Regions from separate parts of the Homo sapiens genome. Here region 2 is linked to region 1. The links come from fine-mapping of genetic effects on gene expression. A gene starts in region 1. The other region holds a variant in brackets. All regions are shown on one strand. Distances are between the middles of the regions. Region 1 holds the start of PHF14 (PHD finger protein 14). Region 2 overlaps PHF14 (PHD finger protein 14).

Region 1 (11,382 bases):
TCTAAGACACAGAAAGATTTTTTATGCACACTGACTAAAGAAAACTGAAACACCTTAGGCTCTAGAAGGGAAGCAATGCCATAATTAAGAGAGCTAGGAGATGAAGATGAAAGAAAAGGTACTTTTCTTCTGGATCAACCTTCTAGAAGGCTTTTTATCAATCAAAACTTCACGATAGACGCAAAAGTAAGATTAACTGGGGCAGAAGTGTGGGTAGCTGATCAAAATTGAGACCAATCCAACTTTGCTATTACTTGGTAAATTTTACAAAATGTCAGAGATTTTTGTGATTTTGTTTTGGTAGTTGCCAATGCCAATTAATTAATTATTTTTTCAAATGAGAGGTAAATTGAGACTCCTTGATTCTGTTTTTGATTTATAACCATGCCTGAATAGAAAGCAATTTTTTAAAAAATTTTTAATGTTTTATGTTTGTTAACTATTATTAGAAGAATGGACATTTTTCCACAAAACCAACTCCTAATAGCTTACCCAACCCCTCATTCTCCAAATATAGTACATTAGTCAGACTCCAACTACAGGGATCAGCAATATATCAAATTTTATCTTTCTATAGGGATCAGCAATACATCAAATCTTATCTTTCTCTGATATCTGAAAAATAACTTCTTCATCTAATTAGTCACTATTTCTTTTTTGTACATATGCACTGGAGGAATGGAGATAAACCATATTTATTTACAACCATAGCTGGGTAATAATGACAATGAGAAAAATCAAGGCCCTTGGCTATTTTTTCCATAGGCTGCAAAGACAAAATTTCCTAGTCATCAAAGAATGACTCTGTGCTATGTTCCAAAAAAAAAAAAAAAAGAGAGAGAAAGGAAAGGAAAAAAAGAAATATACTGGAGAAATTATCTTAGGCAGAAAGAGTTAATTTCAAGTCTACAATAAACCTTTCTTACGTTTGAAAAAAATATATCTTTAAAATTGAAATCCTACTTCCCATTTGGTTAAATAAAAGATAACCTTTCTCAAACATACAATATATCAGAATCTCTCCAAGCAACAGCTATTTCAACTAACAGACAGTTAAGAAATTTTTTACCATTACAGAATTTTTAAAAACTCCTCTGAGTGGTAATGGCCAGACAAAAAAATAAAATAAATTTTAAAATTAGAATTTAAAACACCAACCTTCAAGAATCCCTTTACAATATCAAATAATAAAATAAAAATTAATTTAATTAATATCAACCATCAATACCATTATATCCAATGTTCTCCCCATAACAAAATCAATATGATTTAATTTAGTTTTATGCTAATATACAATATATGCAATATAAATTTGTTCATCAATTTCATCAATCTAATTCTGTTCATTGATCTGGTACAACAGTGTTAGTACTATAAATATACACAATAGATAACAGATCAATCACTATTCTACTAGTTATTTACAGCTATCCCAGGGCTATGTTTGACCAAAACCGTATATGTCTTGAAGACAGCCAATCAGTCAACACAACTCATCCTCCACTTCCGATTCTAGTTCCAGCTATGTCATCTTGGTTTGTATGAGCCAGTGGTACTCAAACGGGAACATTTTTTTCCCCCAGAGGACAACTGGCAATGTCTGGAAACAATAGTTGCCACAACAGTGGAAGTGGAGGTGGAGGTGAGGCTGGGGCAGGTAGGAAAGATGCTACTGGCATCTAGTAGAGGAAAAGGTTGTTGTTGCTAAACATCCTACTGGGTACAGGACAAGCCTCCACAACAAAAAATTATCCAACACAAAATGCCAATAGCGCCAAGGTTGAGAAACCATTAACTCGTATATACAGCCACAATTTGACCTTATTCTATTTTTCCAGGCTTATCTCTTCTACTTTTACTCAACACTGATCCCCAAATATAAAAAAACAATTCCAAGTCTCAACACTTTTAATTTTTGCCTCACCAAGATTGCTGTTTATCTAAATCCTTCTGTTCATAGTTCCACTCTTACCTCCTCTCCTCAATGAAATTGTTCTACATCAATCTAATCTCATTTCCTATTAAAGACTTGAACTACACAAGTGATCAACCATCCTTTGTATCAACTATTTTATTTAATTATTCTAATTTTTATTTTACTTACATGTTATTTTACTTACTTATTCTAATATTATTACTACTGTTTTGTAAATTCACCATAACATCTAGCAAAGGGCTAAACTACGGACAATCAATGAACACATCTTGGTCCACTTATTCAAAGTCAGATTAAGCACAAAATACCACCAAAGTCTCAGGCTGACACTTCTCATTAAATTATTTCCTGGCAATATGGCCTAACTAAACTAACTTTTGATCAAGATCTAAAGTTAACCCCATTTTACTTTGCCTGGTGGGGGATAGGGGTAGAGAGCATGGCTAATCTGTCTGGTTAATAGAAGTAATACATGTCTGCATCTTTAAAAAGATGTAAACATTCTTTAAAACATTCAATTAATGTAGCAGATAACCAAATGTAAATAAGTCTCCTATCATACACCCAACCCTATGCCCAAGTCTCAAATATCAACACTTTAACTAGGTAAAACCATGAAATTGCTAATATTTGACTGTGTGTTTTGGACCTACAAAACTGGTAATTCCATATAGTTCAACCTAACATTTCTACATATGGTTCTTCTGGTGGTTATCACCATAATTCTAATAATGCATATATATCCTATTTTAGGACTTACTCATTTCAAACTTTATTGACTGCTTTCAATCAAAAATGAGAAGCTTACTTTTGCTTTTGCATTAAAAATAAAATATAAACTATCTTCAGTTTCATAATTTTCTAAAGGTACAGGCTCGTAATCACTTGCCAATCTTATGGGTGGGTCATTCTTTACCAATGTTGATTTGTTTCTATTTTATGATAGAGTTAAATTATGTTTATCTGCAAATGTTTTCTATATTTATTCTTAAAACCAAACAGAAATATAAAAAGTTTTATAGTCAGAATTTCAGATTTCAAGATGAAGGTAAGAAGAAATTGATCCACGGAATCCAGTTAGCCAAAATTAAGGCCAACGAATCTAACCACTTTAATATTAAGTTCTAAGGAAGTCCGTAGTTCATTCAATGAGTCATTTCTAGAAGTTGTTTTGAAAGAAGATATGATCAGACAGATGTTTAGCTACCATTTCTCTACTTCCAATTTAATCTCCTATTCGTAAGTAGGGCTGGGAATCCACAACTTCAACATGTTTGGAAACCAGTGATAGGACTAATGTCTTATTCTCTACAAGACTCCAACTAAATATATACTATCTCAGGCACAGAAAAGATTCAAATGGAAAACAATGGTAATCTAGAGTAAGCGAATATCTCAGCTATGCAGAGCATCAATGCACCTAAAACAAGAGTCAAAAATATGATTCAATTTCTGTTGACTACTAATCATTTTAAATACAATCATTTTCTTCTAAATTCCCTTTTACAATAAATACCAAGAACTATACATACAAATTTGTGACCTGAGACCACAGATCACAAATTTAAGCTCCCCAGGGGGCCAGGAAGGTAAATTATGAGTGCAGCATACTAGATATTATATTACAAGAGGGAACAGAAAGTAAATATTTTTAGTGTGTTTAAGGGATATATAGATATATCAACCTAACAAAACTCATCCTATCATTTTTCACAAATAACAGTTCTCTTCAACTATAATTAGGATTTAACAAGGTCAGAAATCTCTACTTAGCTCGATATCATAAAATATTTTGAGAAAGTACTTTATGTTTGTATCAGATTGTTTTACCACTTGAAAAAGAAGTGATACCTGTGAATATTCCATCTCAATGAACAAACCTTGGAAACAAATTGTCCATAAAGTCAAGATTTATTGTCACATAATAATGTAATACTTAATGTAAGTTTTAGAATTGTTCCCATATTCAAAGAATTCGTAACTTCCACGACCCAACTATGTTTGTCAAAGTTTACAACCACAACCATAACAAACCAAAACTACATCCTAGCCAGGAATATTCTTATCTGCCAAGGTCTTTACCAAGAGAACTAAGATTTAAATTTTACCTCCTTTCCCTTCCCCTTCCCTTCTTTGGAAATACCAAATATCAGCAAACCAACTAAATGGGAGATAAAGAGCTGAGAAGCAAAGGATAAAAAAACAGTTAATCAAGATAAACTTATCAATTTTTGATTGCTGCGGATGAATTCAATTAGTAACCAAATAGTCAGTTTCTGTTTAAGATTCCGTCCATCAACTCTTGGGATCCAAGCAGATAAACAGACTAAATTCTGAAGTCAAATCCATTGGATCCGTTACTGCCTGAGTGACCTCATGCCAGTTCTTTAAACTCAATACCCCTGTTACCTGTAAAATGGTATCTCCTTCACTAAGTTACTGTGAAAATTAAGTGAGATTATGCAAACAAAAAGTTATCAGTAAATCACAATGCAAATTCTGCTGTTGATGCTACTAAAAGTAGCAACAGTAATATAATTTCGTTCATCCCTTCCTACTATCCCTAGCAGGAAAAAGACAAGGGAAAACCAGAAGAAGGAGAGATGTGACTAACCACGGCAAACTCTCTGGAAGTATATTTAAAAACTGTTGAAGAGATGAAACTGGAAAGGCTTTTACTTCTCATTTTATTTAAATTTTCATCTCACTTTATTAAAATTTTCAAAAGAGGTGGAATTACACATAATTTTCATTGTTCATGTTTATCAGTATTTTTCCCATAAAACATTTAAATTAAACATAATTTTTGTTTCTCAGATTCCTTCAATTGAAACTGTATATATACATAAGGTACACTGAACAGAAAATACAAAGGAAAATCATACTTTTCTGTTTTCCAGTTTAGTACAATGTGAATATACGACCTTTAAAAAAAGTTTTTAAAATTACTAAATATAGTGAGCAAGCATGCATGACTTATACTTCAGAGACATCTGAAAGGCCCAATCCACAAGGTCCAGCACCTACTATAATTTGAAGTGCAACTCTTACTCTGGTCAATTTTATTCTAGTAAAAGAGCTAATACACAAAAAAAGCAAAACTCCCCTAAGAGATTGTCAAGTGATCTGAAAAAAGAAGAACCCTGCTCAGGGACTATTAATGGTCCACACACCTCTCAGGATACTTTTCTACTTCGGGATATCTTTCAGTTTTTTCCTCTATAATATAAGCATAAATATATTTTAAGGTGTAAAACAGAGAAATCCTTTTGCATCTTTGGAAAAAGTCCTTCCCCTGACTGCTAATTATCTCTGAGGAAAACAGAAGCAATTATAGGTCTAGTGACAGGATCTAAAGGCAAAATGGGAAATCAAATGGACAAAATAAATGAAGTTTACGTGCTTTCACTTAAAATTGGCATTTTAATCAAAACCGATTTAAAAAGTCTAAAAATAAGCCTAACTCCAGAAAGCTGGGAAAGGGGAAGAGAGAAGGAAATATTTACCTGAGGCATCTCCAACTTTAAAATCACTGTCATCTGAACTATCATAATCAAGAGCTTCCAGCAGAGAAGCTGCCAAAGGCTTCACCTGCCTCCTCTTGGAGCTGCGATCCACTGTGAAGAGAAAAAAATTACATTGTCATTCATAATCACACCAAACACAGGGGAGAGTTGTGGTGCTAAGAGAACATAAAGATGACCTCGCACAAGGAATTTTTGTCTAACTGAGTTCTCAGCAAAAGGGGTCAGGAGAAGGTTGGGGTGCAGAAGCAGGGTGGGGAGGGCTGGACAGCTCCACGGGCAGTTTCAAAGGCAGCTCCAGCCCTGATGCTGCCAACGCCAACTCAGACCAGCTAAAATCGAAGCTGACCCTCTTGCTCATCTTTTCGAGATGTTTCTGCACCTTCCTCGTAATCCCCCACTTAGACATCGTAACAGTCAATAAAAACGGCAAAAATCAGGGAATAAAACAAGCGGGCTTCATTCCCGCGGACCATGGAGGGCGAGGGTCCACCAATCCTGCTTTCCCGCAGGACTCTCCCACCCCTGCCCTGCTCCCACCGGCCCTGACTTCTAGAATGGCTGAAATGGACCTCTCGCCGCAGAGGCCTCGGATACACTTACTAAGGAATCCGTGAGGTGGTCGTTTGGAGAAGACTTAGGGAGAGGCTGCAGGAGCCCAGGCAGCGCCGAGGTCGGGGACTGGGGCCGCGAAGACAAGTCCGAAAGATGCTATTTAAAACCGGCGCGCAGCCAGCCGGACAGGGGCGCTCCCAAGAGTAGCCCCGCGGTCCCCTAACCCCCCGCCCCCCCGGCCTCGCCTGGCCCTGGCCGCTCGAGCCCCTTCCCACAGCGCTCCCTGGCCGGAGAAGACCTCCGGCCCAGGCAGCGCAGTCAACCCGGCGGCCCCGGGGAGTTAATTTCTCCCGTTAAAACTAGAAGAAAAAAAATTAAAGAAAGAAAAACTTTATTAGCCTGGACCAGAAGCAACGAAAGACCAGAAATTGCACAGCGCGAGGGCGGCTGCCTCAGACAATAGGGAAAGCAGCGACCCGGATACAGCTCTGAAAAGGAAGTGAAAACACGAGGCTGAGCGCAGCCCTGAGAGCAGCAGGAATTGAGGGCGCATGCGCAGGACTCGCCCCCGCGCACCCTTCCCGAGCAGGAGCCGAACAGAGCCGAGTGAAAGCCCAGGGAGCCGCGCGGAGGCGAGCGGAGCCGAGTAGTGCCAAGGCGGAGCAGAGATCCCCGCCAAACCCTGTGCAATTCCGCCCATAAACCCCAAAGGCTCCGCCCTCTCCGCGCCTAATTCACCTCCTGAGTCCAAATCCCTGGGAGGCCAGTTTTTGTTTCTGATCTGTTTTTTAAGGATTTACTGAGTAAACGTTCCACAAAGGGATGTTTGCTACCTTAAGCCACTACCAATATTTAAATGATATTGTCACCGGTAGAGGATCGTGACTGCAAGTTGTCCAGGTTCTTGGCGTTTTTAACAAAGAATTGGACAAAACGCCCAGCAAAGCAAAGAAAGAATGAAGCAACAAAACAACAAAAGCAGGGACTTATTGAAAATTAAAGCACGCTCTGTACGGAAGCGACCTGAGCAGCGGCTCAAGGGCCCGGATACAGAATCTTGAGTCCAAATACCCTCTAGAAGCTTCCTATTGGCCACCTAATGCTCACCTCATGTAAATGAAGTAACGCGCAATCAGTCTGATTGGTTGCAGAAAGCAGCCAACCAGAGGCTGAAGTGAAGTTACAAAGGTCATGCTCCTGTGCAAACATTGGTGCAAAAAGCAATCAATCAGAGGCTAGGGTGAAGTTACAAAGTGGTATACCTCTATGCAAAGGAAGATTTCCCCTGCAATCAGTTTGATTTCTTGCAGATGGTGAAGTTACAAAGTGATACTTCTATGCAAAGGAAGACTCTCCTGCAATCAGTCTGATTTGCTGCCCACAGCCAATTTCCCATCTGCCCTGCAGAAAAAGTGGGGGTTTGCAAAGGGAGTAGCCTCTGGTCCTTTTGTTACTTAGGCATGGAAAGTTAGGGGTTTCCTTTCAATTTAGTTCTTAGGAAGTCGGAGTGACACATCCTTAGGTTCCCTGCCTCCACACCCTATTCTCCTGCCTCACTCTCACCCAAACTATCATTGCCATGTGACCTCTCAAACTTTTCTATTGTGCTATAGAAACTTCTATTCCAAAATGTATAACCTACTTAGTAAACATTTTTCCTTTTCAATGCCCATTCTTTTTACCTCCTCATCTGAAATAGAAACAGTTACCCTGCAGCCCTCTCAAATGAAAACCACTCATCCTTCCATACTTCATTTTCTCAAGGTGCAGAAGTGGCATCCCATGCTTAATACTCCTCATTGCCTTTCAGATATTTATTCTTCCAGTTAAAATCCTAGGAACTTGGTTATTTTAAAAACTCCACTCTGGGAATTTCACTTCCATTCTACTTTAAACACCAACCATATCATGGACTGATAGTCTTATCTATGAAATTATAAATCCAAATATTCCACTGTTTGACAATAGCCTTTTAGATTTATTTGGAGCAATTATGCTGAATCATCTAAAAGAGAAATTCAAAATCTGGCATTCGTGTTTATGTAAAACTAATTTCTAGAAGGAGATTTTCAGAATCAAAATGTATTAATTCATTTACTTTAATAAATAACACCTAGTTGCTCTAGAAAAACTGTACTGCCGGGTGCGGTGGCTCACGCCTGTAATCCCAACACTTTGGGAGGCTGAGGCGGGTGGATCACTTGAGGTTGGGAGTTCGAGACCAGCCTGCCCAACATGATGAAACCCCGTGTCTACTAAAAATACAAAAATTAGCTGGGCGTGGTGGCACATACCTGTAATTCCAGCTACTTGGGAGGCTGAGGCAGGAGAATCACTTGAACCTGGGAGGCAGAGGTTGCAGTGAGCAGAGATCACGCCACTGCATTCCAGCCTGGGTGACAAGAGTGAAACTCCGTCTCAAAAAAAAAAAAAAAAAAGTCTGTACTAATATATATACCACCAAGAGTGGATAAGAATTCTTTCTAGTTTTCCAAACCTGTGGCCATTGGATATCAGCAATCATTTTTTTTTAACTTTTAATTTTGAAGTAATTTCAGATTTACCAAAAAGTGCAATAATAATACTGAGTTTTTGTACATCCTTCACCTAGCTACCACTAATATCAGTATCTTATATAACCATAATACATTTATCAAAACTAAGAAACTAACATGAGTACAGTTTTGTTGACTAAACACTTTATTTATATTTCACTAATTTTCCTACTAATGTCCTTTTTTCTGTTCCAAGATCCAATCCAGAAGACAATATTGCATTTAGGTTATTAATCTTTTGCAATTCATGTATTGAAAGAAAGTAAGAGAAGGAAAGAAGGAGAAAAGGAGGGAAGGAAGAGAGGGAGGGAAAAAGGAAGAAGAAAAGTAGGGTAAAAAGAAAAGAAAAAAATTACCTAATTCCTTTTTTTGACCTGCATTCAATAAACATGGAAAGAACTGCTGGTTGTTTCCCAATACCCATTATCTCCTTTTTCTTCAAAAATGGAAGCTCCAAATTTTAACTGGGCATAAGTTTTCAAAGAATAAAGACATAATATACCAACTTTCTTGATGTTGCTTGGAGTTATGCAGTTAAGTTCTGGCCAATTGCATGTCAGCAGAAACAGTACGTGCAACTTCCAGGAAATGATATTAAATGAAGGGGCTTGAACTTTTCCCTCCCTTTTGTGAATGCTTGTTATTGCTTTTTCTTGCCTAATTGCTCTGCCTAGAACCTGCAGAACATTGTTGAATAAATGTGGTGAGGGAAAGACTTCTTTGTCTTGTTTCTGACTTTAGGAAGAAAACTTTCAGTCTTCCACTTAGTCTTATGTTATCTATAGTTTTTCAAAGATGCCCTTTTTCAGGTGGAGGAACTTTCCTGTTCCTAGTTTGCCAACTGTTTTTATCATGAAAGAGCTTCGAATTTTATTAAATACTCTTTCTCTGTCTATTGAGATGATCATGTGATTTTTGTACTTTATTTTTTCAATATAGTATATTACTATATTGCTTGATTTTTATTTGTTTAATCAACCTTGCACTTCTAGTATAAATTCTACTTAGTCATGTTGTATAAATCTTTTTATAGATGCTAGATTCAGTTTGCTAGTATTTTGTTGATTTTTGCACCCATATTTATAAAGGAAATTACATTTTGATGTCATATAAAGAATTTGTCTTTATTGGTTGTAAACTGGCTATAATAGCATCTCCAATAATATTCTGCTGAACATCTTTAAGGCGTATGTGATAAATTACTCTTGGCATTCTTAACTCAGAATTTTTTGGGGGAGCTGTAGGGGGATGGAGTATTGCTTTGTTGCCCCGGCTGGAGTGTGTAGTGGCAGCAATCTCAGCTCACTGCAACCTCCGCCTCCCAGGTTCAAGTGATTCTCCTGCCTCAGCCTCCCTGGTAACTGGGATTACAGATGCCTGCTACCATCCCTGGCTAAGTTTTATAATTTTAGTAGAGACAGGGTTTCACCATGTTGGCCAGGCTGGCCTTCAACTCCTGACCTCAACTGATCGCCCACCTCAGCCTCTCAAAGTACTGGGATTACAAGTGTGAGCCACTGCACCCAGCCTTAACTCAGAAAATTTTGAGTCTCCTAATGCTCTGCCATCTTCTTGGTAGAATATTTATGTTATGTAATCCATCATGTTTCTCTTTTATTCTAGTTGCCAGGTATTCAAATTCAAGATATTTATGCATGACTACACAAAGAAGAAGAATTATATAATAATTATCATTTCCAAAAAACAGCGAGCACAAACTGCCTCAATGTAGGATTTTGCCAAATAATATTCTTAATGTCCACAATTCTGTCTAATTAAGCAAACTAAATATGACTGCACAAGCATCAGTAATAATTATGAAAAGCAGAGTTCTATATTCAGAAATGGTCTTTCAAACTACTCCAACAAAAGATAGTAAAATAAATAGCTTGTTGTGGACACCTACTGTAAGAAAAAGAAACAAATATGTATACAAAAGACAGCAAACTTAAGAGTCTGGAGATCCGAATTTTGGTCTAGGCTTGGCCACTGAATTTGTGTTACCCTAAAAAAAGGCAACATTGAGCCTCTGATTCATCACCCAGAATCTGGAAATAATATTAATAACCTGTCTGGTTACTTAAAGTTTTGAGAAGCAGATAACAGTGTACCCTATTTCCAAAATTACTCTAAGAAAAAAGTCTTTTAAATCCAAGAAATTAGAGGACATGCAATGAAAAAATGATGTAAGAGAAAAAGAAAATAAGTTAGAATTAATTGTGAATAATTGTCAACACTGAGATTGTGGGATTTAATACAGTTTTATTAAGCAAGGATATGCAAACTAGAGGGGTCATAATTCTAAATTACGGTAACCAAATCCAAGATGTAGGGGGTAAAGAGATGAAGTGCCTAGGGAAAGTAAAATAAGATAAATGAAGAAAAAAATGAATTGTCTTATTTTGTTGAGAGAGAAACTGCAGATCCTGATTAATTTTTTAAGAAACCAAGAAAGTAAAATTAGTTTGCTGTAAATCTAAGGATAATAGTGCTGGTTCACAACTAATTAAACTAATTGAACTTGTGAATTACCTCACTACCCTCCCCAAAATACACAGAAATCACAGAAGAAATATACAAATAGAAATAAATCCATAAAATCATAGCATTGCTATAAACCTGAGAGTAATGTCACCAGCAGACTTTTGAGGGCTATGGAGGAATTTTGACAGTTCTGGAAGTAGGTCCACATTGCCAACAAAATCCAACAGACTAAGGAGCTAATAAATTCATCCAGGTGATGAATCATCAAAGAGAAGAATCACTAAAGTGAGTTTTTCCAATACATTCTCTGCATAACGCTTAGGTAAGA
Region 2 (11,382 bases), 110 kb before region 1:
TCTTCTACTCATAATACTTTGCTCAAACTTGCCTGAGTATTTGAAGAATATAGACATATGTTAAGTATCTCATTAAAAAATATTTCCAGAGTTCTGAATTTTACTTATTACACCTTTTTTGTCCTTTTTTTCCTTTTTGTGGAGAATGGAGTCTCACTTTATTGCCCAGGCAGGTCTTGAACTCCTGGGCTCAAGCCATCCTCCCACCTCTGCCTCCCTAGGTGCTGGGATTACAGGTATGAGCCACCATGCCCAGCTGAATTTCACCTTTTAGAGAAACCACGGTGTGTTCAAATACGATCCAAGCTTTAAAAGATATACATATATAAAAGTCAATGAATTGTTTGTGCCTCAATGAACATATCCTTACACCTTATTTAGTATACTGCATAACTAACTGAAATTACATACGCAAACAGCTGATAACTTTAATGTTGTTTTGAGGAAGAGATTTGATGTTTATTTCATTTGAATATGAGTTGCCCTACTCAATGGTTGCTCCTGATAAAAGGTTTGTCTTAGGTTTTTATTTGCTGCGGTTAACTGATCAGGGCTACGGTTTTTTTTTTTTATATCTAATTAATCTTTGTGTCTGTCTGTGCTCAAAATGAGGCTCTACTTAAATGTTACATTCATGAGATTAATGTCCTTAAAATGGTGTTGAAGATTTTACTTTACTCAGACTCCTACCATTCTAAAATAATACCATGCTCATTTTTTGTTCCCTTCTAATCTTTAGCCACTTATATGTAACAATTTAGTAGCATATACTTATGACATAAAACAGGTTTCCTCATTCCTATGTAAATATCTTATAATCTATAAATCTATAGGAGATACATAATTTTTTAATACTGATTTGTTATAGTTTATCACTCCCCTCCTATACAGTGTTTTCAGTTGTTTTAATTTGGGGAGTTATATATTTACGGTGGGAATAATTTTCCTACTATAACTATAGCTATAAATGTCTTTTTATATTAGCATTTCTTTCTTTGACTATTTCCTTATGATAAATTCCCAGGAGGGTTATTATGATTAAAAAAAATTTCATGACTAACAAAACCAAAACAGTAAGAAAATGAAATTCTTCATTAAAATGAAAAAGCAGGATTACAAATGAAATACATTTATAAAAGACATTTAAAAATGGATGAAAACAAAAATACTCTGTTATTTTCATTAGTTATTAATGCATAAAAATTTGACAATTTCTCATGTTGGGAAATAGGACTGTGTGTGTGTGTGCGTGTGTGTGTGTGTTTGTGTGTATGTGAACAACACACATTACCTTCTGAAGTTAATACAGTCTGCCCTCCATATCTGCAGGTTCTGCATCAATGGATTCAACCAACCATGGATGGAAAATATTTGGGAAAAATAAACCCAATAAAAAATAGCAATACAACAATAAAAAAAATATGGTATAACAACTATTTACATAGCATTTACATTGTATTAGGTATTATAATAAGTATCTAGAGATAACTGAAAGCATACAGGAACATATGCATAGGTTATATGCAAACATGATGGCATTTTACATAAGGGACTTGAGCATCTTCAGATTTTGATATCCGAGAGCGGTCCTGGAATCAATGCCCCACGGATATGGAGGGATGACTGTAATAATGATAACTCTGCAAAGTTATATTTTATACTGAATTAAACAAAGTGGACTATTCTATAAATTAGAACTTATAAAATTATGTTTTATAAATAATTGCCCTGGGTAACTTTTAATTGTTATGTTAGTTTCAAGTTATACACTTTAAAAATCTTTTTGCCCCCATTCGACTTCTTAAAATAATCCTAATGTTCCTAAATTATTTATTTCTTATTGCATATTTCAAAATGTTTATCCAATGCCAGAAAAGAGTGACAGAGTCTCATACATGTGTCCATATGTATCACACACACACCACACACACAGATGAAGCATGGGCCAAATGAAAACACACAGAGATTATTAAGTGAGAAGACCACTGGGAGTCAAATATAGTTGTGGTTATAATCCACAATATAATTAGCAATAGTCAGTAAAAGGAATAATTGCGTGAGTAAAGATTCCTTAGAAGTCAATCATTGGAGCAAAGCCAAAGATTATGGCCCAATATCATAGTACCTATATCTAAAACAACAACAAAAAAACCAGGTCAAGAAAGAAGAACAGTGCTGGCCAGGCGCAGTGGCTCATGCCTGTAACCCCAGCACTTTGGGAGGCCGAGGCAGGTGGATCACAAGGTCAGGAGTTCGAGACCAGTATGGCCAACATGGTGATACCCCGTCTCTACTAAAAATATAAAAATTAGCTGGGCATGGTGGTGTGCGCCTGTAGTCCCAGCTACTCGGGAGGCTGGGGCAGAAAAATCGCTTGAACCCAGGAGGCAGAGGTTGCAGTGAGCCAAGATCGTGCCATTGCACTCCAGCCTGGATGACAGAGCGAGACTCCATCTTAACAAAAAAAAAGAAAGAAGGGCAGTGCTTTCTATTACCATAAAATCACTCCAGGAAGCTAAATTAGGAGTTCTCAATTTGTTAACAAATTTCTTTCAGAATAGAATGAAAAGGGAACCCAGGGACTTTACAAACAAAGTATACCCTTATTTATTTTATGCTACCCAAAACTGGATTAAGATGTAGTGAGATCTAATTTAACTGACTTGATATTACCCCACGTAAAAATTAGCAAAAACTAATAGTACATACATATTTTTAGATTAAAGATAACGCAGAGATTTCAGTGAAATAGGTACTATCCATAGAAACCCAAGAGGACTAAGAGTAATAAAACTCAAGTAAGAATTTAATAGGTATCATACACATAGAACAATAAAAGCCATGAAAACAATGAATTAAATTACTATACAAATTATATTCAAATGATGACAAAAACTACCATTCCAATCTAACCAAAATTTCAATGTTTTGTATATAAAAATAACATAACTAAGCCAAGATCCCATTAATATCTGACAATTATAACTTTTAAAATATTAAATAAGTACCACTAATTAAAATCCACAGATTGTTTTTTCAATTTGGTTATGTACTGGGGGCATACTATGTGATAAGCATTGGCTTCGGACCTGGAATATTAAAATTAATTTAATTATTAAAAAATGGTGCTTATACACTAAGAATCATACACTGACCAAGACATATGGACTAAGTATAAGTGATTGAGAAGCCCTCATCCCAGAGAAAAAGACGAGGTTATTTCAGAGAGAAGGTATAACATAAAGTATAATAAAAGCAAGATGGCATAAAAGCAACAGGTTAGTTTTAGAAAGAAAAAATGACCTGCGATGATCTAAATTTAGGTCACCTGGAGCTGTGAACAGCTGGAAATGAAAACAAAAAGACAGACTGAGGCTGGGTTTGGAGGGCCTTATAAGCCATGCTATACAGTCTAGATTTACCTTGCAAGAAATGGGAAGCCTCTGGACAAATTTGAGTACAATAGTAACAAATTCATGTTTTAGTAAGACAACTGGATACAGACTAGAGGTACTCAAACTAGAGAAGGTGATGGTTATTGCAACGGTCCAGGAGAGAGTTGATGAAGGAGAATAAGCACTACATATTTTTATTCATTTAATCCTCACAGCAATTCTAGAGGTAAAAAAGATTATTATCCTCGGTTTACAGATGAGGAAACTAAAGCACAAAGATTATGTAACTAGACAAGTTACAACTAATAAATGCTGGGTGAAAATCTGAACCCAAATAACTAGGCTCCAGAATTCAAGCATTTAACCACAGTTTTTTTTTTAAACTATTATGTTTTGCTACTGATAAAAACTAGGGTTAAAAAAAACTGTACTTATCAGTAGCAAATCCCAGGACTTTGGGAGGCCAAGGTGGAAGGACTGAACCTAGGAGTTGAAGACTAGCCTGGACAATATAGTGAGACCCTGTCTCTTAAAAAAACACAAAAATTAGCCAGGCACACACCTGCAGTTCCCGCACTCCAGCCTGGGTAACACAGTGAGACACTGTCTCAAAAAAAAGGAAAAAAACAAAACCAAGAAAAGATAGTGTTTTAAGGAGGAAGGTTGGTCACCAATGTTAAATGTTGAAACGAGGCCAAATAGGATGAGTATTTAGAAAATTAAAAAACGATTAAATTTAGCAATTCATTGTTCACCACTGACATCTACAATAGAAACAATAATTTTTGCCTTTAGAATTAATCACCAAACATGTATCCAACACCATTAAGATCCAATACATTACACAAAAGGTTACATCAATGATAGCTTCAACATGTTTTAAAATCAGCAGTCCTGATATTCAAAAATTAACAAAATAGAGCCTCTGAAAACTAATAAATTGTTTTAAATCAACAGAAGAATATGACATTCTGGTAAAGCAAAACAGTATTTTTATATTAAGCTAATGTCGCAATGTGTAATTAAAAAATTATTTATAGATGACACAGTATCTCAGTAAATCTTTAAAACATGTCAAGCAAAACTGTACATAGATCATCTAAAGGGCAAAGACAGATAATTTGCATTTCCTGCCTAAATAATATATATCTGTTGTCTATTTCATAACATACCAAATTAGGTTTTAGTTTTTCAGACATAAATATCACAACACAAAAAAATGTAAATTTCAATTCAGCAAAACATACCATTAGCAATAAAGCAAAAACAAACAAAAAACCCAACAACCTTAAAGAAAATATTTGCAACTTATACAAAGATATGTAATAAACTCATTTTTAAAAAAGAAAAAAAAATCTCCAAAGATAAAGCGGCAAAGGATATGGAAAGGCAATTCACAGATATGAAAATCCAAATGGTTCATCAATATATGAGTGAATAAACATTGAAACTGATTGTTACAAAATACAATCAAAATGCCAATTTTCATCCATCAAATTGACAAAAATCTCTGCTATGACATCATTACACATTCATGTCCAGTGGGTAACAAGATAATATTATCCATTAACATGTAAAATATGCATATAATTTTGGCCTAGCACACTTACTTTGGGATAGAAATTAAACAGGAAAAAATAAATTTTCAATAGGGAAATATTACAGTAAATTATGATACATCCAAATTATATTTTGTAGCTACTTAAAAACTGGCTTAGTTCTATATTTACTGAGAAAAAGTCCATTATGCATTGTGAAGTTAAAAAAAAAAAAAAACACAAGAGTAAACCCTATAATAGCTAGAATGGGAATGAAAAGAGGAGGCCACCAGTAGGCCCTGAATATTTTGTTTGTACTTAGAGGAAAGAAGTATGGATGATGATATACTAATTCTGTGCCCTCAAAGGGACAGGTTTAGAGGATGTAAGAAGAAAATAACACTTGGTCCTTTAAAAATAAATCCAATAAAGTAATACTTATGTTCTAATTGCTATTATCTTCAAAATAAATGGCTATCTGTGTATGCTGAAACATTTGCTTTTCTAACATTTTTTCAGATTGTGTGTGTGTACATATTTTGAAGTTTAAGTTCTGTAATTATTTTTACTCTATTTTAAACAAATAGTAATGGTTGTAAATACTTTGAAGTTTAAGTTCTGTAATTATTTTTACTACATTTTAAACAGATAGTAATGCTTGTAAAAATAGTGTCTTTAACGTATCTTCTCATATCCTTATGTAATGTTATACTCCAATAAAAACAACCACAAATTGTGCTGTTTCAGATAAAGTTCTCCATAAACTTTGCTTGAATCTACCTATTGCCCCAGACGGGCATCCCATCTTCTCCTCTGGAATGCTTTCCTCCATTATTTATTTTCTCCTAGCTTAAATCTAGCCAATTTTTGTACAGCCCCACTGGTTTTACTGGCAACCGCTCATTTTTACAATTATCTTACTAAGTGATTCTATCCCAAATAAGAATTCTCATTAGGTAAAATTAGGGAAAGCAGGCCAGGTGTGGTGACTCACACCTGTACTCCTAGCACTTTGGGAGGCCAAGGGGGTGG[G/A]TCACGAGGTCAGGAGTTTGAGACCAGCCTGGCCAAGATGGTGAAACCCTGTCTCTACTAAAAATACAAAGAAGTTAGCCGGGCGTAGTGGCGGGCACCTGTAATCCCAGCTACTCGGGAGGCTGAGGCAGGAGAACTGCTTGAACCTGGGAGGCGGAGTTTCCAGTGAGCCGAGACTGCACTGCAGCCTGGGCGACAGAGCAAGGGCTCTGTATCAAAAAAAAAAAAAAAAAAAAATAGGGAAAGCAGAATATTTCTATGTGGCAACTTCCTGTGGCTTTCCAGTCACGATGATACGGGGTGGGAGTGCGGGGAGAAAGAGAGACGGTGTGCACACACCTAGAAGGTAAAGCACAATATAAGTGAGGAATAAGACTCCAAACTATAATTCCAGAATGTCAGAAATAAAGCTTGGAGTCTTAAGGAAAACAAACACTCAGACAAAGGATTTCTCAGCAAAGCAAATTTACTTCTGCACAGAGGGGTGCTTCTCTTTGGCCAGTCACCAAAAGGAGAGTTAAAGTTTTTATCCCTGACGCAAATCCTGCCCCTGTGCCCTTTCCCCATTGGCTGGGGTTGGACTGCACAATCTAAGCTAGACCCGATTCTCTGAACATTTGAACTTTTTCTTAGATAAGGTGTGCACATAAGGGAGAGAGGGGAGAGGGGGTAGAAGTCATCTGTGATAAGCTAGAGAGCTAGTTTTCTTCCCAAATAAGGAAAGGAATGTGAGCTGGTACTGATAAGCCATTGGTGCTGTGGCATGCCTGGGCATGTAGTAAAGGCAGAAAGAAAGAAAAAGAGAAGAAAAGGGAAGGGGAGGGGTACTGTGGATTAAAGAATAAAGGATTAATAGGCTATTTGAAGAGAAATCTTGTCATATCCCACACAGAAGAAAAAAATGAAACCAAAATTCTACTGAGTGTGAAGGCTGAGACTAAAGAGAGGCTCCTGACATAGCTGAGTGGAAGTACTATGTGTGATAAAGAAGGAAATGGAGAAATATCTATTTGGTCAGGATAAACTGAGTATGTTTAGTTATCCCCAACTCTTTATCTTCTAGTAATTGTGATATAAGGAAGACTGGGAAGTACAAGTCAACAATTCATTGTCATTAAATCAGAAAGGCACTGAATGCTGAATTTATAAATCAGAAAGCATAAATGATTGAATAACAAGGGAAAATTAAGCTTATCTGCAAATAATGCAAAATAGACATTGAAAATGTGAGGGAAGAAAATTTATAAATTTGTTATGCTAATTTAGGATAGACAAACAAAAAGAGAATTGACTTTGTTTCATGCCTTTCCATAATGGTTTTATTAAATTGATGTTTTTGTTTGCTTTGTTTTTTGAGACAGGGTCTTGCTCTGTTGCCCAGGCTGGAGTACAGTGACGTGATCATGGCTCACTGCAGCCTCAATATGTCCCAAGCTCAATCAATCCTCCCACCTCAGCCTCCTAAGTAGCTGGGACTATAGGCACGTGTCACTATGCCCAGCTGATTTTTTAAAAATTTTATTAGAGACAAGGTCTCGATACATTGCCTAGGCTACTCTTTAACTCTTGAGCTCAAGCAATCCTCCCACCTCGGCCTCCCAAAGTGCTGGGATTACAAGCGTGAGCCACTGCACTCAAATTGATTTTCTAAGGCAGTCAAGAGATATCTAATATCCAGAGTCTTCTGTTAGAATTCTACGTACACTATTAGCTTTTAAAAACCAGTTTTCTGGTATAAAAGTAAGATACTTTCACTATCAAAAACCTATGAAGATAGAGAAAAGCTTTAAAATGAAATAAAAATATTTATAAAAAATTAAGATCATAAATCTCTTTTTTTTTTTTTGAGACGGAGTCTCATTCTGTCGCCCAGGCTGGAGTGTGGTGGCGCGATCTCAGCTCACTGCAACCTCTGCCTCCGGGGCTCAAGTGATTCTCCTGCCTCAGCCTCCCAAGTAGCTGGGACTACAGGCACGTGCCACCACACCCCGCTAATTTTTTGTATTTTTACTAGAGACAGGGTTTCATCCTGTTAGCCGGGATGGTCTCGATCTCCTGACTTCATGATCCGCCCACCTCGGCCTCCCAAAGTGCTGGGATTACAGTTGTGGGTCACCACGATAAATCTTAAACAAATATGGGACGATTCTAACTTAAACTTAAATGTTTTCCCACACAGGAAATACTCTTTTTAAAAAATGGCTGAATAAGGGGTCAAATAAGAGGATGAAAATTTACGGTATATTATTAATTTATTTAACCACTCTTGTAATACCAGGCATTTGTGTTGGTTCCAAATATTTTTCACTATTATAATGAGCACCATAAAGAATATTCTTATATAAAAATTGAGCTAATTTCAGAATATTCCTCTGGAAAGAGTCCTCCAAGTGCTGTTACTTTACAAATAGTATTGTCATGCTTAATGCCTTTGATTCACATTGCTAAATTATTCCCCAGAAAAGTTTTACTACTTTGATTTTCTACTACCAGGGTAAAAGGGATTTTAACTTTCTCTGTGCTTATCTCGTTTTCCAAACTAGAATGACACATTTCTTGCAAGTACTTCTTTTATAGTTTCATACATATATTTATATACACACACTCACATATATATACATATAAATACACACACACATATATACATATATATTTAATTTCAATAGCTTTTGTGGTATAAATGGCTTTTGGTTACATAAATGAATTGTATAATGGTGAAGTCTTTGATTTTAGTCTATCACCTTAGGCCAAATCACCAGCAACACTCTAGGAATGACAACAGTGTCTTAGACATTATCTTCATTACTGTTGTAGCGCAATTAACACATGGATTAGTAATATTAACTAGCTGTTTCTGCTATATTCAAAATTCAAGACTTTGTGCTTGATGGCCCTCTAATGCATTTGCTCATTAGGGCATGCTTTAATCACATCACTAACAAAGTCCTTCAGTCATTTTTGGTTGAAACCATTAGGATATATATCCGCACTGCAGAATGTCCTGAATAGTACTTTTGATCTAGAAAAGAGTTGTTTGCAAAAAATTAAATAAGATAAAATGAAGACAAAGAATTGCTGACTAAATGTAAACCCTTCTATTTTGAGACATCAGGGAGAAAAACCAGCAGAGTTAATGTTTATTTAAAAACTGAATCTAATCTATACCTGCAGAGTTCCATAAAGAGCAATAAAATCTACTGAAAAAGTTATTTAGTTGAGTGAAAAGGAACTACTGATGCCATACTGACTGAGAAACTTCAACCCAATTTCCATTCCCTTAATTGAAATTGCAACTTTTATGAAAAATTCTATAATTCTGAGGGGGGAAAAAAACACCAAGTAGTGTTTAGTCAATCACTACCCAATACATTTTTTAAAGTGAGATGTTAACAAGTATGCACGTGTAATATAAGTTATCAAGTTTTTTTTAAATTTTATTGTTTTTTAAATAACGATGTGACAGGGCCTACACCTAGGTACTCCACATCAAAGCTAAAACTGAAAATCTAATGCTACAAAATTCTTACAAAGTCTATTTTGGCAAGTTACTTCCTCTATCCAACTACACTTGGTATGTTCTCACAGGTGCAAATAAACTTTGAACTCATTTTACGTGGAATAACTTTATGACATTCATTCGTAGTAAAAATGTATCCTCTTAAAGTTGACAAGAATCCATCTTTTAGACCACTGAGTCTATTCATATTTTGTTTCCTTGTATAATCAGCTCTAGCAATATGCAACAAAAGTGACAATCAAAAGTATGGCACTTTTTGAGTTACATGCAATTGGTAATTTCTATGTCATAAAGCTTTCCTGATTATTGACATGTCATTTATGATCAAAGGTTACTAAGAAGAAAAAACAGGATGACGACAATGAAGAAAAAAAAATTAACTGTAAAGAACAAACAAAATCATTTTTGATAATACAGCTAAATGATTTTGTATATCACAGTTAGCATACAATGTAAAAGGAGAAAAGCCATGTTCCTAACATATTTAATTAATTTATTTTGAAAACAGAGAGTCATATTATAGAATTTAGTGCTTGGTCACTCTTCCCCTACACTTCTATCCTAACTTTGGTTTCTTTTTAATGAAGAAAAAGAAAGTCAGCAAAACAAAATGCCAACATTAAATCATTTTGCAAAATTTTATGTCAAAAAAAGTAATAGGAAATACATACATCAAGGGAAATGTTACTATTATTCCAGAACATCTTTTCACTTGGTTCATGGTTCATTCTTCTACATAACTGTGCAGGTACTACGAATGGCTTTTTCCTCTAGGTTTAATGTGGCATTTGAAAGATTATGGCATTTTCAGGAAACCACAATGTGGTGATTTTAGCAGTTATCTGGCTGAAAGTAATGATGTGATTTAGAATAACCGCTCAGCTTATATGCCATGGCAAAAGCCAGCTACCGAGCCATCTCACAAAGACAACCTAATTCTGGATATTTTATTAATAATACATGAGGTCAGTCTAGAGACATAGAGCAGAATTAGAAGAAGCTCCTTTTGAAAGGGCACATACTATATATATAGGTATGTTTAGATTAAATCCTTTTAAGTTCATTGTAATAGTTAGAGCTCATTCAAAAACTGATAACCTTAATTCATCTTAGTTTAGGATAAATGTAATTGCTCCTTGAAACTTTCACAGAAGGAATTTAGGCACTTAAGAATTAAAATAAAAAGCAACCATATATCATACATTAGTAGCTACATAGATAATAAATATGAGAAATGCTAAAAATACTTATGTAGATAATATAATTCATATTAATCTACATATTTTAGTCCATTTAAAAGCTCAATTTACTTTGTTTTACAGAAAGGAAAAGACAAATTTTTCAGATTAAAACATTTTCTACTACAAAATGTTTCTTACAAACTTATCTCAATTAGTAATAAATGAAAAGTGACTGCGTTATAATTAATTCCCATGTTTTTCAAAGCTATAGTCTAAAAAATATATAAATAAGAACAAAACTTTAAAAATACGATGGGTCAATAATACAAATAAAAATAGCACTGTTGGGTGAGAGGCTTATTCTATAAATGACTCACATTCCTTACACCTGAATAATACTTTGCATTTCTGAATTTCTTTCTCTTCTTAACTTCTGAAGCATTACAAAATCATGAAATTTGAAAATTAAAAGGGATTTTTAAATCAATCTAATGCATTGCTCATTCTATGAATGAGAAAACTGGCTCGCAGAGAGGTTATTTGCATTTCTCATGGTTATACAGCCTCTCCCTGGCAGAGACTTAACCAAAATTTCAACCTCTTAATTTTAGCTCTATGCCCTCTCCCCACCATTTTTCCTAGTTAGTTATTGACCGAATTTTCAAGTGAGGTTCATATTCTGTTATTCACTAAGATAAATATTAAATGCACTATCACTG

The links. PIP is the estimated chance that this variant, and not a neighbour inherited with it, causes the effect.
Region 2: its variant is fine-mapped to the expression of PHF14 in lung (TOPMed, PIP 0.91).

Annotation. Positions count from the first base shown.
Region 1 is chr7:10,969,006-10,980,387 of GRCh38, reverse strand. It overlaps PHF14 (PHD finger protein 14), which reads right to left and starts at 6,516. Exons shown (of 18, transcript NM_001007157.2): 1 at 6,064-6,516; 2 at 5,443-5,553. The coding sequence starts at 6,064. RefSeq lists silencers at 5,672-5,721, 6,702-6,761, 7,272-7,321 and an enhancer at 6,452-6,746.
Region 2 is chr7:11,078,285-11,089,666 of GRCh38, reverse strand. All of the region lies in intron 16 of PHF14 (PHD finger protein 14), which reads right to left. Among named protein-coding and RNA genes, the nearest start is that of PHF14, 110 kb to the right of the region's middle. The variant G/A (reference allele first, on the strand shown) is at 5,966.